Linked DNA regions of Homo sapiens. The protein of the gene in region 1 purifies or fractionates together with the protein of each later gene. This does not show direct contact. Each region holds a gene or a part of one and is shown in the gene's direction. Other genes may lie near its edges. The genes, in order: ITGA7 and SCN10A.

Region 1 (3,817 bases):
TAGGTCACCTTCTACCTCATCCTTAGCACCTCCGGGATCAGCATTGAGACCACGGAACTGGAGGTAGAGCTGCTGTTGGCCACGTAAGCCAGGCGGGGCCGGAAGGGTGAGGTGGGGGTAGTCATATTGACCTCATCTGACCCCTTGGGAGGTGCCTGTGCCTGATGCCCATACTTGCCCCTGCCCACTCACCAGGATCAGTGAGCAGGAGCTGCATCCAGTCTCTGCACGAGCCCGTGTCTTCATTGAGCTGCCACTGTCCATTGCAGGGTGAGCCTGGCCCAAGGGGGCACCTCCATTGGAGGGAGGGGGCATTGACATTTCCAAACCTTGGCCAGGGCCCTGCCTTCATTGAGCCAGGCCCCAGACCTTCTCACCCCTGTTCTGACCTCTCCACGCCAGAATGGCCATTCCCCAGCAACTCTTCTTCTCTGGTGTGGTGAGGGGCGAGAGAGCCATGCAGTCTGAGCGGGATGTGGGCAGCAAGGTCAAGTATGAGGTCACGGTAAGTGTCAGGGATGAGGCCCCTCCATGGTCACCCTCCCTCCTTGGCACAGAGGAGAGGCTGAGCTGTGTCCCCAGGGCTGGGGCTCTTCTACCATGTGGCAGCATGCAGTTTGAGGCCTCTGTCCTGCATATGGACCTTGGCTGTGGGAAGGTGTTCCTGCTGGGGCCTCATTTGACCATTTCCTGGTCATTCTGTCTGGCTGTCTCACCTGCTGGTGTGGTAGGCCATGAGAGTCCAGGGAAGCTTCTCTGCTGTGGGCCTCAGCTGGGGGATGGGAACATGGGGCGGGGGGTTAATGTCTCTCCCTAGAACTCTGCCTTTGCTTGGCTGGGGCCTCTCCTCACACCTTCCAGGGACACTTCCAGGGTTTCCCGGATTTGGTGGGTGGAGAGAATGGTGCCTGGTGGGGTCTAGGATCCTGAGTATTTGTTGAAATTGTGTTTCCTGAGGGCCTTCTCTTCAGCCCTTGTTCCTTCCATCTCTGTGGATTTAGGATCCACTTGAAAGCTGAGTTCCTTGGCTGGGCACGGTGGCTCATGCCTGTAATCACAGCACTACAGGAGGCCAAGGTGGCAGGATCACTTGAGCCCAGGAGTTAGAGACAAGCCTGGGCAACATAGATCCTGTCTCTACAAAAAATTAAAAAAAAAAAAAAAAGAAAAACTGAGGTCTCTCCCCTCATACTCTCTTTTTCCCACAGGTTTCCAACCAAGGCCAGTCGCTCAGAACCCTGGGCTCTGCCTTCCTCAACATCATGTGGCCTCATGAGATTGCCAATGGGAAGTGGTTGCTGTACCCAATGCAGGTTGAGCTGGAGGGCGGGCAGGGGCCTGGGCAGAAAGGGCTTTGCTCTCCCAGGCCCAACATCCTCCACCTGGTGAGGCTTAGGTGGGGGTGGGGGTTAGATGTGGGGACAGATGTTATGGGGAGTAAGGGTAGTGAGTGCAGTGATGGGGCAGGAGGAAGGCGGTGGGGAGGAGATTCGATCTTAGCACTGCTGTGATTGGAGGGACACTCACTAAGACCCCCCTTCCGTGTCCAGGATGTGGACAGTAGGGATAGGAGGCGGCGGGAGCTGGAGCCACCTGAGCAGCAGGAGCCTGGTGAGCGGCAGGAGCCCAGCATGTCCTGGTGGCCAGTGTCCTCTGCTGAGAAGAAGAAAAACATCACCCTGGTGAGGGCAGGCCAGACTCGGTGCAGCCAGAGCTCCGGGGTGCTGCGTGTCCAGGAAGGGTACCTGTTGAGACACATGATGGTCTGGGTGCAAGTTGACCAGATGTTCCCATCACAATTCATAGGAGGGGGTGCCCGGGAGGCAGCTACTGACACTGCAGACCCCCTTCCTGCTCAGCCCCTGCAATTGCTCACTCTAGAACAGGTCACTCCACCTGAAGCCAGTTAGTTAGCCAAGCAATTGATTCACATTACGTTTATATAAAGCATTACATTTTATACGTGATGGGATGGGGTTAGCCCATCCTCACACTTTGAGGTCTGTTTGTCGTTCTTTTGAACTCTTATAAGATAAAAAAGTCAATTTGTGTAAGGACACTTGCTTGATTTTTACAGTATTAAAAATGTTAAGTTCTTTTTTGTTGTTGTTGAGACGGAGTCTTGCTCTGTCACCAAGGCTAGAGTGCAGTGGCACGATCTCAGCTCACTGCAACCTCTGCCTCTGGTTCAAGCGATTCTCCTTCCTCAGCCTCCTAAGTAGCTGGGACTACAGGTGCATGCCACCACACCCGGCTGATTTTTGTATTTTTAGTAGAGACGGGGTTTCACCATGTTGGCCAGGCTGGCTGGTCTCGAACTCCTAACCTCGAGCGATCTGTCTGCCTCGGCCTCCCAAAGTGCTGGGATTATAGGCCTGAGCCACGCGCTCAGCAAAAACACTAAATTCTAAAAGTTCTAATAATTAAGACAACCGTATATTATATGTGATTTATTAAGTTTACCCCTTTTGAGCAGTTTTGCTTTCCCCTTTTCTGCTTGTTTTGCAGAGTTGTGTTGTTTAGGTGAAGGTATTGAGCAGATCCGCACATGCTCTGTGCCCCTCCCTGCTAGGATGGGGCTCGCAGTGAGAATGTGGTGGGGACTTAGATTAGGAGGTCTTTGGCTTGATTGTAAGGAGGTGGAGGTAAACCCCAGGTAGAGCCAAGGAGACCCTTTGCAGGGGAATGTCAGCAGCTGCTGCAGTCCCTGCTTTGGGCCCTCAGCTCCCCTGGGAGCATGGCATGAGGCAAACTGAAGAACGTCAGGGGATGTAGGAACCCATGTCGTGGCTGTTGCTCTATTACATGGATAATCCTCCCTTCTCCACGTGACCGATTTCCTCTGAGAGGCCTCCCTTTTAAATGGGAACTTTGAAATAGATTCTTTTTGTTTTCATGTTAAAATGTATTTATTTATTTAAATGACAAAAATTATATTTATCATGTATAATACAATGTTTTGAAATATGTATATACTGTGGAATGGCTATATTGAGCTAATTAACATATGCATCACCTCACATACTTATTTTTGTGGTAAGAACACTTAAAATCTATTCTCTTAGTGATTCTCAGGAATACAATATGTTGTTATTAACTACAGTCCCCATGTTGTGCATTAGATCTCTTAAATAGATATCTCTTCCTTCTGTCTAACTGAAACTTTGTATCTTTTGACCACCATCTCCTCCATCTCCCCAGCCACACCCCGCCTCCACTCCAGCCCTAGGTAACAACTATTCTACTCTCTACTTCTATGAGTTCAACTTTCAGATTCCACATATAAGTGAGATAATGCAGTATTTATCTTTCTGAATCTGGCTTACTTTGCTTAACATAATGTCTAAAGTAGATTCTTTTTTATTTTATTTTATTTTTTTATTTTTTATTTTTTAATTTTATTATTATTATACTTTAAGTTTTAGGGTACATGTGCACAATGTGCAGGTTAGTTACATATGTATACATGTGCCATGCTGGTGTGCTGCACCCATTAACTCGTCATTTAGCATTAGGTATATCTCCTAAAGCTATCCCTCCCCACTGCCCCCACCCCACAACAGTCCCCAGAGTGTGATGTTCCCCTTCCTGTGTCCATGTGTTCTCATTGTTCAATTCCCACCTATGAGTGAGAATATGCGGTGTTTGGTTTTTTGTTCTTGTGATAGTTTAGTGAGAATGATTTCCAATTTCATCCATGTCCCTACAAAGGACATGAACTCATCATTTTTTATGGCTGCATAGTATTCCATGGTGTATATGTGCCACATTTTCTTAATCCAGTCTATCATTGTTGGACATTTGGGTTGGTTCCAAG
Region 2 (3,817 bases), on another chromosome or scaffold:
TGCCATATTTTACATGCCTTTGTCTAGGTAACAGCAGAGAGCATGAACTCTGTGACAGCTGTCTGCCACTCAGAAGCATTTTCAGTTACTTTGGGGCTCTTAGGGAGCTCCAGGTGGCCAAGTTCCCTACAATTTTGACCTCTGGACAAATAACAATGGTCATGGCTAAAATCTATTGAGCCAAGCACTTCGTGCAAAGTGTTTTACAAGCGCTAACATATTTAGTCATCAAAACAGCTGAATGATGCAGATCTAGCCTTTTCAATTTTGAAGCTGGGAAAAATGAAGATTAGAGAGGTTAAACAACTTGCCTAAGGTCACACATCTTATAATTAATGGAGCCCAAGGATAAAACATAGGTCTATCTAGCTATAGTCTTCATGCTCACTTCACACACGTGTATGTATATATGTATGTACATGAGTTGCATATATGAAACTCTTGGCTCTGGCAGCCTGTGATGTGCAAGATCCCTTCAAATTTAGAACTGGTCATCTAAGGGTGGGGCCAGGCACCCAGTTGGGACCCTCTCTCACTAGCAGGAGCAGCTGCAGCAAGTCGAGAGGTGTGGGGACCACCTGACACCCAGGAGCCCAGGCACTGGAACATCTTCTGAGGACCTGGCTCCATCCCTGGGTGAGACGTGGAAAGATGAGTCTGTTCCTCAGGTCCCTGCTGAGGTAGGTATGTCAGCTTCCTGGAGAGGTTGGACAGCCAGCCAGACACTGAGCAGTGGGCTGGTAGAGGCTGGAGGGTGGCGGTGAAGGTGGGGTATTCCAGACTGCACTCAATCACATAACCTCATTTCTTATCCTGGGAATTTTTAAAGTCCCTCCCAACCTCCGGCTAATCCGCACAATTTCAACTTTCACCATATACCATTGCCACAATCTCACTCCAGGGTGGTTCTAGGTATAGAAAGAAAGAGTGAGACTCCACAAGCTGTGGGACCTAAGATCAGTTCCCAAACCTCTCTGAGCCGCCATTTATTCATCTATGAAACTGAATGGTAATGCCTACTTGGTAGGATTATTTTGAAGCTTAAATGAGATGCTGCTTGTCAAATGTTTAGGTCCTGCCTGAGACAAAGTAAGTGCCCAGGAAATGACAGCCAAGAAAAAAGGAAACGAAAGACAACGCACAAAGAAAGTCAAATATCTTTCAGAGCCAGCAAATAAGAGTTGGAGGTGCTCACAGATGAAGAAGTTTTCCCTTGTGATTCTCCCCCACTTTCTTTTGTCCACATCATTTTCTCTAGGCAAAAGTAGCCTGGGGCTAGGGAGAGGCTCTCTATAGGTGAGTAGTGAAGTGACAGCCTCACAGAGACTGAGCTGGAAGATTAGAGGTTTAGGATTGTCTTATACAAGGTAAAAATAAATGTGGTTTCACTTACAAATCTTGAAGGAAACAAGCTATAGGGAAAGAGGCATCTATAAAAGTTTAGCATCTTTAATAACACTGCCTTCAATTCAAGAATTTAATTTGACACCTAGCCACTGAGTGCTGACTTTGTGACAGGCACTGGGCTCAACAGAGATAAGGAAGTCATAATTCATCCCCAAAGTTATCAAGCCCTTCAGCTTGAAGAATGTCAGCTACTGGCTGTGTGCCCTAGGCAAGGCTGACCACAGCAGGGTAAGATAAGAGGGAGGGCTGGGACGGGATTTGGGGGCTGTGGGTGAACAGAAGCCGCTTGGTTCCCACTGGGTGAGGGCTGTCACATTCTGCACGTGGATGTCATGCTTCTTCCCAAATGTTCCAAGGACTCCCCTGGCTAGTTGTCCCTACTCAATGTTTTCAGTACACAACTTCTGGGTGTTGGTTTTTTGTTTTTGTTTTCTTGTCCATGACCCCGGCTAGGCAGGAGGGGCCTGACAGCGACAAATGGGGACCCGCCCCACCATTTGGGTCCATTAGCAAAGCTATCAGGTTTACTAATATGAGAGCAACTTCAACCCCTAATTGAATTCATCTGGAGACATTATAGGGCTGGAGCTGCCAGGAGGGCAGCAGGCCCCTGCAGCATTACTCCATGATTAAATATTCAAGCCCAGTGAATGCTGAGAGTCGTTATGGGTGTAATTACGGTGTCTCGGGCCATTGCCAGCACTCCATCAGGGGCCCCGAAGGTTTACAGTCTCACACAGCTAAGCCTCTGGGGCTCCAGGGAGAAGAGCAGTGTTCCAGGCCTCAGCTGGCGAGGCACCAAACATGGGTGCAGTTGAACCTGCAGTGACCGTGTGCAATTCCCCGGGCCCCGCGGAGAGACGAGTTCACTGCCCTGGGCTTCTCCCCTGCAGGGAGTGGACGACACAAGCTCCTCTGAGGGCAGCACGGTGGACTGCCTAGATCCTGAGGAAATCCTGAGGAAGATCCCTGAGCTGGCAGATGACCTGGAAGAACCAGATGACTGCTTCACAGAAGGTGAAGGGACAGCCACAGGCCCCCTCACACTGATGTTAATTAGGGCCAGAATCCAGTTGAGCGAACACTCACCTGGGATCCACAGAAGACAAACAAGCTGTGCCCACTTGCTGCCTCACTCCCAGGCTTGAGGGCGCCCGCATCAGACACACATGCCCCAGGTGGCAGCAGCCTGGCCGTGGTATCTGCATCTCATGCCCTATCAGACACTACGGAGAGACGTGGGCCTTCCTCTTTACCCTCAAAAACCCCTCCGTGAGTTCTAAACCAGCCCTCTTGAGTTGAAAGGGGGAAACGTAGTCACCACCATAAACACCACTGAAAACTCTTGATTTGGACCATGAAGGACCCAGAGGAAGGCCATGATGTATCTGCTTCCCTCAATCTTTTGTTTAGCTCTCAAAAGCAGAACCTGTGTCTTAGTCATCTTTCCTCTCAGTGTTTAGAACAGTGAGGCACATTACATTCTCAATAAATATTTGTGCAATGAATGAATCAAGAGTCCATTCTATAAAGGGAATTGTGGCCTCAATGCTTTCTAAAAATACAAAGAAAAATTTTTTAAATACTTGAGTTTTTATTAATAGTTTTATTTGACCCTGGGCTGGGCTGAGCTGGGCTGGACCCAATCCCCATCCCAGCCACGTCGTGGCCCTCAGTTCAGCTTGGGCTTGGAGCATATCCCCCTCAGGCACCCCCAGGCTCATACGCCGTAGCTTGTCTGTTTTCCAGGTATAGGTGGGCAGAAGGACAGGGACCACTGGTGTCATCTGTAAGAAGGATATGGCTAGGAAAAACATCAGAGTGGGCAAGACTGATGATGGAGAGGAACACCTGTTGGTCTGGATTGAGGGACTCCCTGGAAGGGACCCCTCTTCACCCATATTCCAGGAAAGAATTTTTTTCCAAGGGCATGACAAGTGGGTTTCCTAGCAGAATGGTTTCTCTGCAGCAGGAGCAGAAATTATCCCCTTTGCCCACTGGCCATCACCCACCATCAGTCACCTCTCCCCACAGGATGCATTCGCCACTGTCCCTGCTGCAAACTGGATACCACCAAGAGTCCATGGGATGTGGGCTGGCAGGTGCGCAAGACTTGCTACCGTATCGTGGAGCACAGCTGGTTTGAGAGCTTCATCATCTTCATGATCCTGCTCAGCAGTGGATCTCTGGTAAGGGGAGGCATAGTCCCTGCCCCCAAATCCTCCAGATAGGAATCTCCTACAATCCAAAGGCCCTGGAGCTGCATCAGTGGGTTCTCCTGACTACTGAGCTGAAAGTCCCCAACCTTGTCACTAGAAGGAGAGCTGCAGCCCAGGGCGAGGGCCCCTCTTAGCAGCAGAGCATGGGAGGTGTTCAAGGTGCCCGTGCCATGGCCTGCCAAACCTGGCTG

What was found.
Region 2: the proteins of ITGA7 (region 1) and SCN10A fractionate together in Homo sapiens (co-fractionation; one large-scale study listed by BioGRID). This does not show direct contact.

What each region holds. Positions count from the first base shown.
Region 1 is NC_000012.12:55,690,709-55,694,525, reverse strand, and holds part of ITGA7 (integrin alpha-7 isoform 2 precursor), read left to right. Parts: intron 1-3; coding exon 4-83; intron 84-195; coding exon 196-270; intron 271-402; coding exon 403-505; intron 506-1,208; coding exon 1,209-1,385; intron 1,386-1,550; coding exon 1,551-1,682; intron 1,683-3,817. UniProt on the Homo sapiens protein: Integrin alpha-7/beta-1 is the primary laminin receptor on skeletal myoblasts and adult myofibers.
Region 2 is NC_000003.12:38,722,037-38,725,853, reverse strand, and holds part of SCN10A (sodium channel protein type 10 subunit alpha), read left to right. Parts: intron 1-539; coding exon 540-680; intron 681-2,300; coding exon 2,301-2,424; intron 2,425-3,441; coding exon 3,442-3,596; intron 3,597-3,817.